Regions from separate parts of the Homo sapiens genome. Here region 1 is linked to region 2. The links come from fine-mapping of genetic effects on gene expression. A gene starts in region 2. The other region holds a variant in brackets. All regions are shown on one strand. Distances are from middle to middle.

Region 1 (9,661 bases), 84 kb after region 2:
TGGGAGACTTTAACACCCCACTGTCAATATTAGACAGATCAATGAGACAGAAGCTTAACAAGGATATCCAGGACTTGAACTCAGCTCTCCACCAAGCAGACCTAAAAGACATCTACAGAACTCTCCACCCCAAATCAACAGAATATACATTCTTCTCAGCACCACATCACACTTATTCCAAAATTGACCACATAGTTGGAGGTAAAGCACTCGTCAGCAAATGTAAAAGAATGGAAATCACAACAAACTGTCAGACCACAGTGCAATCAAATTAGAACTCAGGATTAAGAAACTCACTCAAAACCACACAACTACATGGAAACTGAACAACCTGCTCCTGAATGACTACTGGGAAAATAACAAAATGAAGGCAGAAATAAAGATGTTCTTTGAAACCAATGAGAACAAAGACACAACATACCAGAATCTCTGGGACACATTTAAAGCAATGTGTAGAGGGAAAATTATAGCACTAAATGCCCACAAGAGAAAGCAGAAAAGATCTAAAATTGACACCCTAACATCACAATTAAAATAACTAGAGAAGCAAAGCAAACAAATTCAAAAGCTAGCAGAAGACAAGAAGTAACTAAGATCAGAGCAGAACTAAAGGAGATAGAGACACAAAAAACCCTTCAAAAAATCAATGAATCCAGGGCTGGTTTTTTGAAAAGATCAACAAGAAAACCCTGTTTGGCTAGTTCACCTGGCTCATCTGATGGCAAGTTCCTATCTTGAGAGGACTATGAAATTAAAACCAATACAAGTGCCACAAATAACATACAACATTGTAAATCAGCACAATTTGTAGCTGGGTGAATGGAAGAAATAGTTCTATTCATCACTTCCTCATTTTCCCTAAATCTACAATCTCCAGATGTCACTACTGAATTAACAGCCAACAATTCCACAACATTACCTGGGAGACACTGGCCCTTTTTCTTCCTCTTCCTCATCATCACTTTCATTTTCTGTAAATAAATTCAGAGAAGCAGGTCACATTAAGCAATTCATACTTCACATATGAACAAATCACTGTCCAGTCATAGCACAAGGACATAACTATTCTCAGTGCAAGAATAAGGATTCTGACAGGAATATTCTAGGGTGTCCTAGATTAACTTTGGTGAGAATTAGATGACCCTGCTTTCCAGACCCACAGGCCAAAATCTCCCTCTACGTGTAGACCATAATGCCATATTCCCTGCCTGAGTCAAAGTTAAACAAAATTTTTTCCCCAAAAAAATCTCCAAAAATTGGTCAAACAATTTTCTAAGAGTGTTGCTGCGATACGGACTTATATCACCAGGTAACATGGACATTAAATGTTTAGAGGCATCTATACATGAAACACGACTGATAGATAAATTTGAACAACTCTTGCTTTAAAAAGAATCTGTGATTTGGGAGGCCAAGACAGGTGAATCATTTGAGGTCATGAGTTCAGGACTACCCTGGCCAATATGGGGAAACCCTGTCTCTACTAAAAATACAAAAATTAGCCAGATGTGATGTTGTGCACCTGTGGTCCCAGCAACTCAGGAGGCTGAGGCAGGAGAATCACTTGAATCTGGGAGGCAGAGGTTGCACCAAGCCAAGATGGTGCCACTGCACTCCAGCCTGGGTGACAGAGCAAGACTCCATTGCAAAAAAAAAAAAAAAAAAAATCCACGATGCTACAAAGAAACATTGGATCAGCCATTGCATTGACAGGGTGGAGAACCAGGGTCCAGCCTTGCTTTATGGAAATATATCAGCAAAGTAAAGAAGAAAAGTTTCCGTCCTGATTTCAGGGTGACTGTGCAGCTAAGCAAGCTGACTTAAAGGAGATCCAGATGAAAGCTGAGAGCAGTGAAGCCTGGGGAACAATATTTCCAAATACAAAGGCAAGGCTGCCAGCTTCCTTAAACAGGCATAGAAACTCCATGGACATTGTTCAGGGACAGATGACTTAATCACAGATGACAAGAGATACTGAATCGAAGATAGGAGGCCTGACAGATACTGCCTGTGCACCTCCTGCACTCAGGTGACTATGAGATTGTCACACTTGCCTGGGGTTGAGTAACTTGATACTGGGGACTGGCAGACAAAGTCATGACATTAGCTGAGAAGGACAAACAAACTCCCTGATATCTGTTTAGAAACCCATCACAGTTTTTTATTCAAATGAATTTGTGTTTATAGAGCCTGTCTTCAGAGTTTATCTTTCTCAGCCTAGAGAGAGGTATGAGACACAAGGAAAACAGAGGCTACCTGGAATAATGTGTACAGCATCCTCCCATTCAACATGAGAGGATGAGCCAATGAGAGTTGAGTCGACTTTGTCTTCCTCAAATGTGATTTTGGTTTTCCTATGTGGCTGGTTGGAGTCATAAGAGCCATGGCTATTTGAATAAGTGATGGCACATTCCTCCAGTGAGTCCTCAGGGACTTCCTTTTCTTCAGCCTTCTGCATCTCCCTGATGAGCCAGGTGGGACAGAGATGACAGAAGATTAAACACAGAGGGATTGGACCCCAGGGAGTCCTAGCTGGTTTTGACAGGCGGCATTAAGAGAGTGGTCCCAGAAAGCAAAATGGAGGTTCCCATTAAGAGGGAACATGCAATCCTGTTCTCTCTGCAACAGAGCATGGCTGCCATGGGAACCAGAGAGGAAGAGAGCAGCTGCTGTTCATTGCACTGGACAGATAGGAGCTGAGGAGGATGAAGACTCAGCTATCCCTGTACGGTGCAGACATGACACTCAGCACACATAGAGAAACATGACAGCTACCGCACCCTGTGTCTAAGCTGGATTATATTTCACATACTGTGGCCAAGCGAATGCGGGTTTTTGGCCCATCATAGATGCCAGAGAGGGTGTGCCTCCTAGATATTCCTCATATGTTACCATCCATTAATTGTTCCTGAGTATTCAGTGTTACCTGGGGGCAGATGATTTCTGCACTTTCTCAGCCACCTCAACTTGAACATCTTCATCGTCATCGTTGTCATTTTCTGCAAATACAGAAGTGTTCGTTCAGGTATTTCCCACTTCACAGTCTGCAAGCACAGTCAGCCCAATGTGCAACAGAGACATGAACATCTAGGCATGGGTCACCGTTCAACTGAAAACTCTCATGTTTTATCTTTAACAGAATGCCCTGGCATGGTTTCCTGATCCATCAGGCAATGCATTTCTGATCTGGAGGGCCACCATCAAGATGTGGCCAAATATTGAAAAGACCTTTTGCTTCCCATATCACTGGAGGCTTGTGCAGCCTCTCTCTGGACGTTGGCAGCTGTCTCCCCCATCCTGCCAGATCTGATTCCCAGGCACAGGCTTGGTGTCCTGTCACGGTTTGCATTTCAAACCTCATTCTTTCTCTTAGAAGCAGACAAACTTGTCCCACAGTCCTCTATGCATCAGAAGATTTCAAGCCTCCAAGTGGCTTCTGCTGTGTTCTTCAGGGACATTCTATCCATGGGGAGTGCTCCAGTCTGAAGCACTTCCTACCACAAAACGCCCCCACATAAAGTGCCTTCTCCAACATCACACGGCAAGGGCCTTCATCTCATTTTGGAAAGCAGTTGTAAGTGTTCCCACATTTGAATGCTTCAGACCCTTGCAAGAGACAATTTGTCTGCCACGGAGAGAGAGAAACTCAGGAAGGACAAGTCATTCACTCTCTGACAGTTACTAAGAACATTGCCGAAAAGACAGCCTGGGAACCTTCATTCTTAGTCCTGAGCTCTTTTCACTCTAACAAGCCTGCTCCCATCGCAGCCTCCTTCCTGTCCTTTAAAACTAGACAGATGCTGCCTCTTGCTCCAAAGACCACCTTTCATCAAGGGAGGAGGGACACTTGCAATACTGTGACCTCCAACCCCATGGGTTTCCCATCTCCGTTCTTACCCAAGAAGTCCTGGTCATGTCATGGCCACATAAGCTTAGTGGAAAAAAACACCATTGATACAACTGTCATTGTGAAAGTATGGAGGTCTGGAGTCTCTCATAAGCCTGGGATTTTGGGTCATCAGGGCCTATGGCCACCTTACCTGGGCTGAGCTTTTGGACAAGGTGCTGTGCCAGTCTACACCCCTCAGCCAGCTGTTCTTGGAGGTCCTGCCCCTGGGACTTGTCCGGCTCATACGGAGTGAGGAGGGCCTGGAGATGCTCATTCAATGAGCGGGAGGCATCTCTCCCTTCCCGTAACTTCTCCTTTAACTGGGTCAGCTCTCGTTCCTGAGCGTGAACCAGGACTTTATATTGCCTAAGGTGAGACGGTAGAGAAAATTTAAGAGTGGAAAGGGTTGAGTGATCCGCTCAAATATTGCAACAGAGATTTCTGAGACAATGTCCTCAAGGAGACCTCGAAGCAGAAGGTCAGCACATGTGGAAAGGAATGTCTGTGGCCAAGAGAAAGAATAGAAAATGGTTTACAGGCTTCCTCTGTATCAGAGAGGGCTCTTGCAAGATCCTCGATGATGTTCCATTCATCTTTCTCTTCTGTAAACAAAAGTAGGTGTCTTCCTAATTCCGTTTCAAAAAGACATCCTTTCAGTTCCTCACTCTGGCCATGGACATTTCCATGTGAAAATACACATAGTGCATCTTGCGGCCACTAGATACAAAGCCATGTACAGAAATGAGGCCAGGTGCAGATGGGGCGAATTGAAAAGATGAAAGAAGAAAAGAAGGACAGGGTCGAGAAGGCAACATTGATTGAGTGAAAGAATGAGAAGCCGCAGTCAGTCAGGAGGTGATTCTCACTAAGGGTAAGTGGGGTGGTGATGGCACACCATTTTGAGTATACTGAATGCTGCTGTGTGGTTCACACTCCTTTGGTTAATTTTGTGTTATGTAAATTTCACATCAACAATTACTTGTTTGAAAAAGAGAAAACAAGGCTCTGAGAAACAACTGCAACCCATACATTTTTACTATCCTTCTTCTCTGATAAATATTTGTGTGTAGCGAGCCTGCCATGGCAATTCCTGCCCTTCCCCTGGCCCAGCTTAGCTCTTACGTCTCCCCACCGAGCTGCTGTACTTCAGAGATTTACACACCTGC[G/C]CCCCTGCCTGCCCCCATGGGGTCCCCTCACCTGAGCTCCTCAGCTTGCTTGAGCTGCTCTGCAAGCTTCTCCTCCTTGAACTGTCGCTCATTCCTCAGCATAAATTTTATGAGGTCTTTGCACTCTTCATATTCTGAGAAAAGACAGACACACCTGCCTCAGTGGAAGGCTGGACATGCTGCTGTGGTCATTGCCTACAGGACAGGAGCCAGGTCCATCCCAAGGACAAAACTCTCCCCAGTACCAGGGTCTAGACAGGGATTTCCACATCTTTACTCTTCAGTCTCCTGACTTTCTGGCATCTGATCCTCCAAAATTTAGAGATGAAGAAAGAGAACCTCAAGGGCACATCAAGGAAGTTGACAAGATGATTCAACCACAATGAAGTGGAGTCAGAATTCACAGTCCCTGAGGTCTGACTCTGAATGCGGGGCCACTTTCCCAAGCCTTGCAGCCTCTCCTCTAAAACACTGCACTGGGGCATGAAGTAGTGATTTCTTGTACAGTCGGGAAGGCCCCTAGGACTATGGGACTGATGGTTTCCCTTTTACTGGGAATTTCAAGGACAAGTATGCGAAAGATTTTTAAAATCTTTGATTTTTAAATCATATCTTCAGTTATGATTTTAAGAATCATATCTGAAGCATAAAGTGTGACACATAACACCATAAGGCCATGAAGGAAATATGCCCAAATGCTAATAAAGTTTGTGTTAATTTAGAAACAGCAGAATGAAGAACTAATAGATAGTGTTTACTGTGTGCCAATAAATGTTCTAGGAGATTGACAAGAAATAGCTCATGTAATTCACTGCAGCAATTTACAGAGGTAGGTATTATTGTAGTACCCTCTGAACAGGTGAGGAAACTGAGGGACAGACAAGACAAGCAACTTGGATGGAGCCCAGGAGACAGGCCCACGGTCCCTGCTCTGTACACTGCACTGCTATCTCCACACATTCTCGGGTGCGATCTTTCTTCCTCTTTAGCAACAAGACTCTGTGCCCCAGGAAGCAGGACTTCACTCTCACCAAGCTACTCTCTGCTTTTTATTCTTATTTTTATTTATCATTATTATTATTATTATTTTTAACAGTCTTGCCCTGTCGCCCAGGCTGGAGTGCAATGGCAAAATCTTGGCTCACTGCAACCTCAGCCTCCTGGGTTCAAAGGATTCTCCTGCCTCAGCCTCCTGAGCAGGGGTGATTACAGTCACCTGCCACCACGCCCATCTACTTTTTGTATTTTTAGTGGAGATGGGGTTTCTCCATGTTGCCCAGGCTGGTCTCAAACTCCTGACCTCATGATCTGCCCGCCTCAGCCTCCCAAAGTGCTGGGATTACAGGAGTGAGCCACCATGCACGGCCCCTACTCCCTGCTCTTGATGCTGTCACTTATAGACAGCACAGGTTCTATTAGGAGTAGACTCCTCTTGAAGCCCCTCAGAGCAGGTACTGGCTACTATCACCAAGTTCCCCTCAGAGTCACTAGAACAGAGCTTTGCCTGTTGGGCCTCAACAGAAACTTGAACTGAATAAAAGTTCACTAGTCTCAGACATTTAGAACAACAGACTAGATGTTATTTGTCTGCAGGATCTTATATGGTACAGAGAGGATTCTTGAAAACACGATTGAGCCTCTTGGAGAAAACAGGTCATTCTGTGCCTGTGTCAGAAATCAATAAATGGCAGTTTAACTCTAGTCCCACCCCCACCTGATTGCAAACATGGAAAGTTGCTAAATACTTTGGTACCTCTGTCTTCCAACTTTGACAAAATGTTAAAATACCCATTTCTGTTTTCCTAGAAGTACAGGAAGGATGAAATTATTTTTGATGGAGAGAGCATTTAGTGTCTCAGAGAGAAGACAGGATATCATTCATCACTTTCATGATGGTGAGCCTATAGATCTTACTGTATTTCTTCTGTTGGTTGGCCAGGAAGCCGGACAGTTGAGTTAGAAAACATTTCTCTTTGAGGTTTCTGAACTGCTGTTTCTTCTCTGCCAGCTGGGGGCGCAATTTCTCATTGATTTCTAGAATGTTCATCTCTGCCTTCTCGCTGGACAAAGGGCCGGCTGATACCACCATGCTGACGTTTGTGGCAGAAGAGGTGGGGCCAGGGACTGGGGAGAAGAAAGGCAAACACATGATGGGTTAAAAACTGGTGAAATCAAATAGGCTTAATCAGGACTGAGGGATGTCACTGGCAGCCTTGTTTACTTATTTGAAGATGATGTTTCCCTGGTTTCACTCTTGTCATCTCCAGTCTTGATCTCCTTTAAGTCAACTTGTCTTAGCTATGCAGTCACCTTGAAACCAGGACATAAACACTTCTACACTTTTCTTGCTTATACGTTTCTATAAAGCAAGGCTTGGCCCTGAGATTTTTACCCCATGAGTGGCCAATGTTTCTGTGTAGCACAAAAGATTTCATTTTGCTTTTTTAATTTTTTTCTTTTTTGGTTTTTTGTTTTTTGTTTGAGACGGAGTCTCACTCTGTCACGCAGGCTGCAGTGCAGAGGCACAATCTCAGCTCACTGCCACCTCTGCCGCCCGGGTTCAAGCGATTCTCATCCCTCAGCCTGCCAAGCATCTGGGATTACAAGCGCCAAGTAACATGCCAGCTAATTTTTGTATTTTTAGTAGAGACGGGGTTTCGCCATCTTGGACAGGCTGGTTTCGAACTCCTGAGCTCAGGTGTTCCGCCCACCTCAGCCTCCCAAAGTGCTGGGATTAAGATGTGAGCCAGCGCCCCTGGTCAGAGACTTACTTTTTTTTTTTTTTTTTTTTTTTTTGAGATGGAGTCTCGCTCTGTCTCCCAGGCTGGAGTGCAGTGGCACAATCTCGGCTCACTGCAAGCTCCGGTTCCTGGGTTCATGCCATTCTCCTGCCTCAGCCTCCTGAGTAGCTGGGACTACAGGCGCCCACCACCACGCCCAGCTATTTTTTTTTTTTTTTTTGTATTTTTAGTAAAGACGGGGTTTCACCGTGTTAGCCAGGATGGTCTCAATCTCCTGACCTCATGATCCACCCGCCTCGGCCTCCCAAAGTGCTCGGATTACAGGTGTGACCCACTGCGCCCAGCCGAGACTTATTAATAGCTAAGACAAGCCAATGAAAAGGAGAGAGAGTCTAGCCTGACAGAAGTGAATGAGAGTGGGAGGATCATCTCAGCCCATCCTCCCACCTAAGTCTCCTGAGCAGTTGGGACTATAGGCGTGCAGCACCATGCCTGCCTAATTTTTTGTATTCTTTGTAAAGATGGGTTTCACCATATTGTGTAGGCTGGTCTTCAACTCCTGAACTCAAGTCATCGTCCCACTTGGGCCTTCCAAAGTGCTGTGATTATATGTGTGAGTCACAGCACCTAGCTCCATCCTAGTTTCTGACTAAAACAATAACAATATGTGTATATACAGCCTGTCCTCAGAATTGATCTTCCATAGCCTAGACAGAGGTATGAGACACAAGGAAAATAGAGGCTACCTGGGAGAATGTTTAGAGCATCCTGACATTCATCATGAGAGGATTCTCTGTCTACAACCAGAGTTGAGTTGACTTCGTCTTCCTCAAATGTGATTTTGATGTTCTTGTGAGGCTGGTTGGAGTCACAAGGGCCGTGGCTATTTGAACAAGTGATGGCACATTCCTCCAGTGAGTCCTCAGGGACTTTGCTCTCTTCAGCCTTCTGCACCTCCCTGATGAGCCAGGTGGGACAGAGATGACAGAAGATTAAACACAGAGGGATTGGACCCCAGGGAGTCCTAGCTGGTTTTGACAGGCGGCATTAAGAGAGTGGTTCCAGAAAGCAAAACGGAGGTTCCCTTAAAGAGGGAACAGGCAATCCTCTTCTCTCTGCAACAGACCATGGCTGCCATGGGAGCCAGAGAGGAAGAGAGCAGCTGGTGTTCAGTGCACTGAACAGATAGGAGCTGAGGAGGATGAAGACTCAGCTATCCCTGCATGGTACAGACATGACACTTGGCACACATAGAGAAACACGACAGCTGCCGCACCCTGTGTCTAAGCTGGGTTCAATTTCACATACTGTGGCCAAGGGAATGCGGGCATTTGGCCCATCATAGATGCCAGAGAGGGTGTGCCTCCTAGACATTTTCATACGTTACCACCCATTACTTGCTCCTGAGTATTCAGTGTTACCTGGGGGCAGATGATTCCAGTACTTTCTCAGCCTCCTCAACTTGAACATCTTCATCCTCATCTTCGTCATTTTCTAGAAATACAAAATGTTCGTTCAGATATTTCCCACTTCACATTCTGCAAGCACAGCCAGCCCAACGTGCACAGAGACATGAACATCTATGTATGGTTCAGCATTGTACTGAAAACTCTCATGTTTTATCTTTCACAAAATGCCCTGGCATGGTTTCCTGCTCCATCGGGCAATGCATTTCTGATGTGGAGGGCCACCATCAAGATGTGGCCAAATACCGAAAAGACCTTTTGCTTCCCATATCACTGGAGGCTTGTGCAGCCTCTCTCTGGACTTTGGCAGCTGTCTCCCCCATCCTGCCACAGATCTGATTCCCAGGAACAGGCTTGGTGTCCTGTCACAGTTCGCATTTCAAACCTCATTCTTTCTCT
Region 2 (9,661 bases):
AAAAAAAAAAAAAAAAAAAAAAAAAAGAAATCCCTGCACAAATGATGAAAGATAGTTGTATAAGGATGTTCTCTGAATAATTTTTTATAAGAATAAGCATTAGACACAATTTTGTGTCCATTAGCTGAGGGCCATTTAAATATATACTGGTTCATCCATACCATAAAAAGATAAGCAGTTGTTTAAAAGCCTGAGGTAAAATATGAAAGTGGTGATGATGATGCCACTGAAAATAATTATAGCAGCTAACGTTTAATGAACATTTATTAGGTGCTCAAATGCTTTATGTGTATTTCTCATCAAATGTGTAACCAAAAATAAAATTCTAAGGCCCCCCAGCCATGTGAATGGACCCCTGCTCTAGGTCAAGGTCATTCCACAGTTAACCTGAAAAACTAGTTCAGGCCATGATGGGAAGAAGTTGGACATGCCTCATTATACCCTCCTTCCTTTTGGAACTCAGGAAAAGCCAACCAGCATTAACATCAACACAGACCTTAAGTCTGATAAGAAACATTTACAATCTATTTTCTCTGAAGCCTGCTACCTGGAGGCTTCATCTGCATGGTAAAACCTTGGTCTCCACAACCCCCTATCTAACCCAGAAATTCCCTTCTGGAATAAGAACTCTTTCAACCAATAGCTAATCAGAAAAATTTTAAATCTATGACCTGGAAGCCCCCCACCCTTTGAGTTGTCCCGCCCTTCCAGATTGAAGCAGTGTAAATCTTACATGTATTGATCGATGTATTCTGTCTCCCTAAAATGAATAAAAGCAAGCTGTACCCGACCACCTTGGGCACATGTTGCCAGGACCTCCTGAAACTGTGTCATGGGTGCCACCTTAACCTTGCAAGGTAAACTTTCTAAATTTATTGAGACCTGTCTCACATACTTTTGGATTCACAAATGTTAGATTAATCCATGAGAGAAGCATTGTTTATTTATTTATTATTATTATTATTTTTTGAGATGGAGTCGGCTCTGTTACCAGGCTGGAGTGCAGTGGCGCAATCTTGGCTCACTGCAACCTCTGCCTCCTGGGTTCAAACTATTCTCCTGCCTCAGCCTCTCAAGTAGCTGGGATTACAGGCACCTGCCACCACGCCCAGCTCATTTTTGTATTTTTAGTAGAGATGGGGTTTCACCAAGTTGACCAGGCAGGTCTCGAACTCCTAACCTTAGGTGATCTGCCCGCCTCATCCTCCCAAACTGCTGCAATTACAGGCATGAGCCACCACACCCAGGAAAGGGAAGCACTTTTTTTTTTCTGTTTTTATAGATGAAGAAATAGAGATACAGAAAATTCAGTAACGTTTTAAAAGTCACATCATGAACCAACCAAGATTTCAACCTGGAAATTGAGGCTTCACCACAAGTGAAGACTGGGATTTTCTTGTTTTCAATTATTGGGAGTTTTGGATTTCCAGGAATGTGCAGTTGTAAAAACCCAGCTTCAGGAAGTGATGAAATAAGTGCAGTGGCTCTGGAGTAAGCTCTGAAGCCCCAGGCTCAGGCTCTATTGAAAAATTACTTTTGCTGAAATATTCTTGTTTTTAGGAACTTCCATGGAACTTGAGCCTTCGCACAGCGTATTTTGGCATCGAATTTAAAGCTAGTAGAGGTCCGGAAGATTCCCAGGATTAAAGTCTTTAAACAGAAAGCGTGAATCTTGCCTAAGTAAAAGGTACCATCTCTGGGTGGGCTTGAACCACCAGCCTTTCGGTTCAAACAGCCGAAGGCACTAACCGATGGCGCCACAGAGACTCTAATGGTTTAGATTTGCTGATACCAGAAATGGCATTTTAACCTCTGGCCGTAGATAATCTCATATGTTTGTAGCCTGTCCAATCCCGCGCACTCCAGAAACCCAGAACACGGGAGACATTGAAGCCAAGAGTCGAGTCTTTGGGCACTTTGGACGTTCTACCCGGGCAGAGTCAGCTGGGGGACTCCAACGGCCAAACGGCCGCCTGCTCCTCACCGTCTGCTCTTCACTGGTTCCCCCGCCTGCTCTTCACCGTCTCAAAAGTCGCCGGCCCCTCTACAGGCGACAACTGCAGCTTCTCCGGCGGAAGTCACTCGCTTTCCCATTCTTAGCCCCGCTTCACACCTTGAGCTCACAGTCATTTCCGCCGGGCCTGGGCTAGCGGACGCGCGCGTGGGAAGGACCAGAACCCGTGGTGTCCTCACCGCGTCACCCTCGGGCCCTCAGAGGTGGGATCCACCGGACAGGGACCTGGAGTTTGCACAGGCTGCAGCCCTTCGCCCAGAGCCAGCCTAGCACCTAGTAGGTGCCCAATAAATGCTTGGTGAAGGAAGGCATTCCACCGCAGGGTTTTAGGAGAACCATGAATTCCCGTGTGAACGTTAAGCGTTTAGTCCTACTAGGAAGTCTGGAATATAGAGACCTGAACTGTTTCTCAAAGGCAGCTGTTCTTGTATCCCCAGAGCCGGTTTAGAATCCAGCAAAGGCCCCTGCCCGGTGGATCCCACCTCTGGAGACCCGAGGATAGTGCGGTGGGGGGCACCGCGGGTTCTTGTCCTTCCCACGCTCACGTCCACCGGCCCAGGCCCAAAGGAACTGGCTGTGGGTACAAGATGTGAAGATAGTTACAAATACCAGCTAGTGCCAGTGCCAGTTGCAGAAATCAGGACTTGTAATAGTTATGAGTATTTCTTCATTATTTTGAGATGAATACATTTGGGTGTATATTAACCAAAACTTTTCTTGAGAATTCTCCTCTTCCATCACCCTAGCTAGCACATTCATTAATAATTAACTTTTAGAAATCTCAATATTTAGGTTACAGGAAAGCAAATATGGAATGTGATCTATCTAGCTAAAAAAGGAGTGAACATCATTCAAAGACAAAGACTTTATCCTGTTGGGGAAAGGGTTGGCATATTTTCACTGAATGAGAAAAAGTATGATTTTCATATTGTCTTTATTTGAACCTTAAGTATGATTTTACAAGGAGGAAAAAGGAGGAGGAAGAAGCAAAAGAAGAGGAAGAGGAGGAAAAAAAGAAGAGGAGGAAGATGTACATTGATGCCACTTTGAGAAGAAGTGGACTGTGGTGGATTTGTAATGTATCAGTTTTGCCAAGCTGAATGCACATTTCCCAGATTTGCCATCTTTAGATAGCTCTAGGTTAGCCTGGGCAACAGGAGACACTTGGAAGATAGAATTCGAGTGGCTGTTACACTCTTTTGTATACTGGGAAGGGCGTTGTTACAGCTCAGGCATGATCTTCAGCTTCCCTGACCCTTGGACTGGTGGGTGTTTTGCTTCTTGATCTAACATTAAGGTTAGAAGTTGCAGGATTCCAGCAGGGTTTTGTCACATCCAATCTGGTTTAAGTTCTCATATTATTAGGAAAGCTTTAGGGTGCTTCAGGAAAACGCTTTTTAAAAAATCAAATTTGGAAAATATCAAATGGAATTATAGGCAATAAGCATAACCCAGTGGAACCATGAATCAAACCCTCTAGAGCAGGGTTGTCTAAATTTTGGCTTCCTTGGGCCACACTGGAAAAAAAAAAAAGACACTTGTCTTGGGCCAAACATAATATACACTAATCGCAATTGAACTGTACCTGTAAAGCTTGTAAACAAAATGTGTCTGTAAAGTCTGTAAACAGGCCAGGTGCGGTGGCTCAGGCCTGTAATCCCAACATTTTGGGAGGCCGCGAGGCAGGCGGAAAACTTGAGGTCAGGAGTTCAAGACCAGGGTGGCCAACATGGTGAAACCCTGTCACTCTTTTTTTTTTTTTTTTTTTTTGAGACGGAGTCTCACTCTGTCGCCCAGGCTGGAGTGCAGTGGTGCGATCTCAGCTCACTGCAACCTCTGCCTCCCGGGTTCAAGCGATTCTCTTGCCTCAGCCTCCTGAGTAGCTGGGACTACAGGCACGTGCCACCACACCCGGCTAATTTTTTTTTTTTGTATTTTTATTAGAGATGGGGTTTCACTGTGTTAGCCAGGATGGTCTTGACCTCCTGACCTCATGATCCACCCGCTTCCGCCTCCCAAAGTGCTGGGATTACAGGCGCGAGCCAGTGCGCCCGGCCCGGTGAAACCATGTCTCTACTAAAAATTCAAAAAATTAGCCGGACCTAATTTTTTGGTTGCCTGAGCCTGTAATGCCAGTTACTCGGGAGGCTGAGTATTCTCTGGTTGAGGAAGGAGAATAGCTTGAACGCAGGAGGCAAAGGTTGCAGTAAGGCGAGATCGCGCCATACACTCCAGCGGACTGTTTGCTGTTAATCCCATAGGGAAAAGAAAAGCTTAGTTTTATTTCTATAGAACAACAACAAAAAAAGATAAGAGATTAGTAGAGACGGGTTCACTATATTTGCCCACACACGCCTGAGGTCGAGCGATATTAACATAAACATAACCTATCGACGTACCTCATAGATTGCTGGGATTACAAACGTGAGAACCACGATGTCCCAAATTTTTAGTTTCAGTGAAGTTACAGATGGGAACAAAGACCTGATTCTCAGCTTACGCTGACGCCCAGTATGCGTTTCTGCAGCAAACAAAACCTATTTTTAAAACGACAAAAATACAGGGGAAAGCGCGAATGCAGTCTACCACTGCCACAAATTATACAGTCAAGTTTCCCACATTTGGGGAAACTGCAGGGGTCAGCAGATCCGGAGTGCAATGGATAAGACTCGCTCTGGAAAAACCACCTTCGTGACCAGGGTATCTCTCCTGCCAGGTAAGTATGAGTTATTGCACCTCCGCCCCGCCGGCAGCCTCACACGCTTCACCCTTTACACGCACGGTCACTTGCCCCGCGCACACCCCCCTCCCCCCCAGCCCTCCTAGCCCTGACACACAGCTGGGACTCTCAGGTCCGACCAGCGGTCCTGAACCCGCTCCCACGGCACGGGAACTCCTTCGTGGCGAAGCAGCATGTGGCGAAGCAGCAGCCCCTGCGCTGGCTCATCTACATAGAAGTCGCCCTATCCGTGATGTCACCGACAGCGCCTTTCCCAGTCCCCGTCTGCCTTTCTGCCGCTCAGCCGACCAACCCGCTGCCGGAGCCGGCAAGGGGAAGTGACGTCTGCCTCTCCCTTTTTTCTCTCCTGCTTCCCTCATCTGTTCTCTTCCAAAGAAGCTGGTCCTTAGCCTGTATTGCGGAGCAAGCTTTCGGCGACCAGCTGGACCCTGGGCACCCTTCTTCGAACAATGGCTTTTAATTCTCAGACTAGAACGTTTAGGATTACAAAAGAAACTGGTTCTTTTCACATTCTTATTCTTGTGATGTAGCATTCCGCATATATATATATATATATATATATATATATATATATATGTATCCAACTATCCTAAAAGACACTACCCTTCATCATTCCATGCCATTAGACATGTATAGGACCATGCATGGTGATCTCCTCCAGACAAAAGTAAATGCTGGTGCAGAACAGGTAAGTGTACTATAATTTGAGTACATCAGCTTTTGGGCATTTTAAACCATGGGTCAGACAAGTTAGAGCAAGAGGGCAGGTTGATAGCAAGAGGGAGTGTTTTTCTTTTAATTTTCTTTTTTTTTGTTTTGAGACGGAGTCTCGCGCTCTTCGCTCAGGCTGGAGTGCAGTGGGGCTATCTCGGCTCACTGCAAGCTCCGCCTCCCGGGTTCACGCCATTCTCCTGCCTCAGCCTCCCCAGTAGCTGGGATTACAGGCACCTGCCACCACGTCCGGCTAATTTTTTGTATTTTTAGTAGAGATGGGGTTTCACTCTGTTAGCCAGGATGGTCTCGATCTCCTGACCTTGTGATCCGCCCACCTCGGCCTCCCAAAGTGCTGGGATTACAGGCGTGAGCCACCGCGCCCGGCTTCTTTTAATTTTCAAATAGCAAAGTGATGTTTGCCACTGTCATTTCAGAATGAGGTGACAATTTGTTGTTGTTTGGTTTTGTGGGGTTTTTTGTTTGTTTGTTTGTTTCTGAGACAAGGTCTCACTGTCGCCCAGGTTGGAGTACAGTGGCATGATCAGGGTTTACTTCTGCCTTGACCTCACGAATTCAAGCAAACCTCCTTACTAATCCTCCCAAGTAGCTGGGACTACAGGTGCATGACACCACACCCTGGGGTGTGAACTGGGATTTGATGTTTTCAGTTGGCTCCCTGATGGAATAGGTTCCCTTACTATTCTGGAATACAGATTGTCTTCATGATTATGATTCATAATCATAATGATTATGACAGCAGTCCCTGCTGTCAGGCAGGGACGTTTAAGTCTGCAGAAGCTGTCTGCTGCCTTTTATTCAGATATGCCCTGCCCCCAGAGGTGGAATCTAGAGGCAGTAGGCCTTGCTGAGCTGCAGTGGGCTCTACCCAGTTCGAGCTTCCCTACCACTTTATTTACACTGTGACCATAGAACCACATACTCAAGCCTCAGCAGTGGCAGAACCCCCTCCCCCTGCCATGCTCCAGTGTCACAGGTTGATCTCAGACTGCTGTGCTAGCAGCAGGCAAGGCTCCATGGGCATGGGACCTGCCGAGCCAGGCACAAGAGGGAATCTCCTGGTCTGTCGGTTGCAAAGACAGTGGAAAAAAGCACAGTATTTGGGCAGGGGTGTACTGCTTCTCGAGGTACAGTCACTCACAGCTTCCCTTGGCTAGGAAAAAGAAATCCCCCAACCCCTTGCACTTCCCGGGTGAGGCGACACCCCACCCTGCTTTGGCTCATCCTCCGTGGGCTGCATCCACTGTCCAACGAGTCCCAGTGAGATGAACCAGGTACCTCAGTTGGAAATGCAGAAATCACCTGTCTTCTGCGTCTATCTCACTTGAAGCTGTAGACCGGAGCTGTTCCTATTCAGCCATCTTGGAAGCAACCCTCTTTTTCTTTTTGTATTTTGGTAGAGACAGGGTTTCACCATATTGCCCAGGCTGGTTTCAAACTCCTGAGGTCAAGCCATTCTATAAAACAAACTTACATTTGTTTTATCTGAGTTCCTTCCTCAGGAAAGGACTCTCAGGCCTCTCAAAAAGCATCAGAGACCCGAAACTCAGCCAATCACAGCATCCAGACAATGAGATGCCAGTCCCCTCACTCATCACGAGTGCTTCCTCACCCCTCTCTAGTTCCTCTTTTCCCACACACAGTTAACTTTTCTTCTGCGCTATATAAACCCCTAACTTTAGTCAATCAGGGAGACAGATTTGAGACTCATCTCCTGTCTACTCAGCTGCAGCACCTGATTAAAGCCTTCTTCCTCAGCAATACTCAATGTCTCAATGATTGTCTTTCTGTGTGCTGAGAACACTGAAGCCCTGGGGTTTTGGTAAAAATACATGTACACTTTTAAAAACCGCAATTAATGGGTTGTGGTATATTGAGAAATTGGAGTGGCATCAACTTGGCCAATTCTGAGGAAACACACTGTGCTTAAGTGTGAGGGCCCTGCCTCCTGACCTCGACAGTTTATGGTTGATTTTGAGGCACAGCAGGGGAGTATGGCCTGGTTTGAGTGTTTTATAGAAATGTAAAACATGGCTGATTACTTTTTATTTTAAATCCAACAAATCTCCATTTCTGGTGAGAAAATCTTGCCAAAACCAACCAAACAAATGCGTAGAAGTATATGAAGAAGAAAATGAAAGATTCCCTGCCTCCCAATCCCACTTGCTTGGTGTCAGCCATTATTTATCACATGGAGGAAGGGGGCAAGACACACAGGAAGTCCCAAGTCCTGTTCTCACAATCATCTGGCCTCCCTGGGCAAAGGGAAAAGAGGGAAGGCAAAAAGAATATAACACTACTGTTTGCGGAAATTTCCCCTTGGTACAGGAAACTCTGGTAAACTGAGAGAGTATGTTTTCCAGAGGGAGGCCTCAAGGGCTCTTCTCTGGCCCTAAGCCCAAACTGGATTTTGCCTCATTTTCTGAGGTGCAAATGAAATGATAAAAGTTGATCAAAGGAGAGGGCAGAGAGAAAGAAAGAAAGAGGATGACTCCTCTCTCGCAGGTCCACCTTCCTTGGTGTTGCTTGAGGGATCAGAAGAAATGCCTTAACATAGGTGTGTGGGAACTATGGCTGCTAAGTATGAACTCAGTTACCTCCAGTTATAAGCTAGTGTGAGGTTCCATGGTGTAATGGTGAGCACTTTGGACTCTGAATACAGTGATCAGAGTTCAAGTCTCACTGGGACCTTTCTGTATAATTCCAGTGAGGTTCCTCTCTATTGCTCCATAAGCAGAATGGGGGAAATTGCCCAATCGTGGTCACAGACCCTCCATGCCACTGGCTGTGTGCAATTGGAGTCCCGGACCCAGCGACCAGCAAGACCCCTCCCCTCTCAGGGTGACCCTGGGCCTCCAGGTCACAGGTCTCCACTAAAAAGGCTGCCTCCCCTCAATCCTAGACCCCGAGTTTTCTTTTGTTCATGTCATTGGGCCATTGCCCTATGTCTCTTTGGAAGAAATGACCTATATGAAAAACTTTACTTCCAGGATTCCCTAATTCTTTCATCCCTTAGGACAGTGCAGTTTTTCATCTCCTGATCTTGGGTCCAGTACTAATGGCGCGTTTCATCTTGTTTTCATGGGATCCCCTCCAACCGGCTACCAGTGGATTCCTGTCCTTGGGGTCTCTGTGGATGACAACTAGATGCTGCTCTTGTCCCAAATCCTGACACCTCCCTCCAGGGAATTGCCTCCCTTCGCCTCCTAAATCAGCCAATATTTAGATTTGAGCCTGGAATCCCAGCATCTGTGGAGAACGGAGGTTCCTGATCCCTGGCCAGCCTCCCGCAGTGAAGGGGAGAGGAGCAGAGCAGCTGGGAGGGGCAAGTCCAGGGTCCTGGGCAACCCCCTTCTTCCTGCCCAGACTCTGCTCCAAGGAGAAGTTGCCTTAGGACCAGATCAGATGGAAACTCTTGTTCTCTTCTCATCAGCAGAAAAATTTAGGCAAGAGCTCTGGAGGACCTTCCTAGCTCATAAAAATGCTGTGGTCAAGTCTCTCCAGTTTTGGAAGTGTCCAAGGTTACCAAGTGTTTTGAGGGCTCACTTTGGAGCCTCTGAAAAGGAGGGGTCAGGGCCCATGGAAGGTACCTGAGGGATTCAGGAGAGAGAGGGGAAAGAGCAGACAGGAGGGAGGAGAGAAGGAGGGAGGGGGAGAAAGGGTGTGTGAGGGCCAGGAGCCAGGATTCACCCTGACAGTTCAGTGACTGCTCCCTGGCCCCAAAGTTCCCACTGTGGCACCTTCCAGCAGGTGGTTTCCATCTCTTATTGATGTCCTGAGAACTTGGCTCTACAGAACGGTCCCACTCTATTTGTCTGGCATGAGTCCTGCAAAGTTTCTTTTCATCGTTTGGGGGATGAGATGGGGGTATATAGGTTTGCAAGTGACTAGGAGCTAAGTCAGGACCTTGTGGAGCTGCTCAGAGTTAACTGTCAAGTAGCCTCCTTTCCCCCTTCCCTAGCAGGACGATTGCCTGCAAGACAGGGCCTGGAGGAGGCCAGGGAACCCAAGGCCACAGAAATGCCCAGGGATGAGTCCCAGCTGGAGATGCCTTGGCTAAGCTGACTGTGCACTTCCAGGGCTCACAGGGGTCTGGCCAGGAGACTGAGCAAGGGGACCAGGGAGGTTATGCAGAGGCTTCTGCACAGCAAGGCAGACATTCTTCTTGGAGCCCC

What was found. PIP is the estimated chance that this variant, and not a neighbour inherited with it, causes the effect.
Region 1: its variant is fine-mapped to the expression of LINC01719 in caudate (GTEx, PIP above 0.99). The same link has a PIP of 0.9 or more in putamen.

What each region holds. Positions count from the first base shown.
Region 1 is chr1:146,131,267-146,140,927 of GRCh38, forward strand. It overlaps NBPF10 (NBPF member 10), which reads right to left. Exons shown (of 90, transcript NM_001302371.3): 4 at 9,218-9,290; 5 at 8,543-8,754; 6 at 6,970-7,179; 7 at 5,087-5,189; 8 at 4,041-4,255; 9 at 2,927-2,999; 10 at 2,257-2,462; 11 at 920-971. Among named protein-coding and RNA genes, the nearest start is that of NBPF10, 8.7 kb to the right of the region's middle. The variant G/C (reference allele first, on the strand shown) is at 5,056.
Region 2 is chr1:146,047,507-146,057,167 of GRCh38, forward strand. LINC01719 (long intergenic non-protein coding RNA 1719) reads left to right here and starts at 5,090. Exons shown (of 3, transcript NR_125968.1): 1 at 5,090-5,442. RNVU1-6 (RNA, variant U1 small nuclear 6) reads right to left here and starts at 4,738; the gene lies at 4,575-4,738. RefSeq lists enhancers at 3,948-4,676, 4,677-5,408 and a silencer at 4,588-4,827.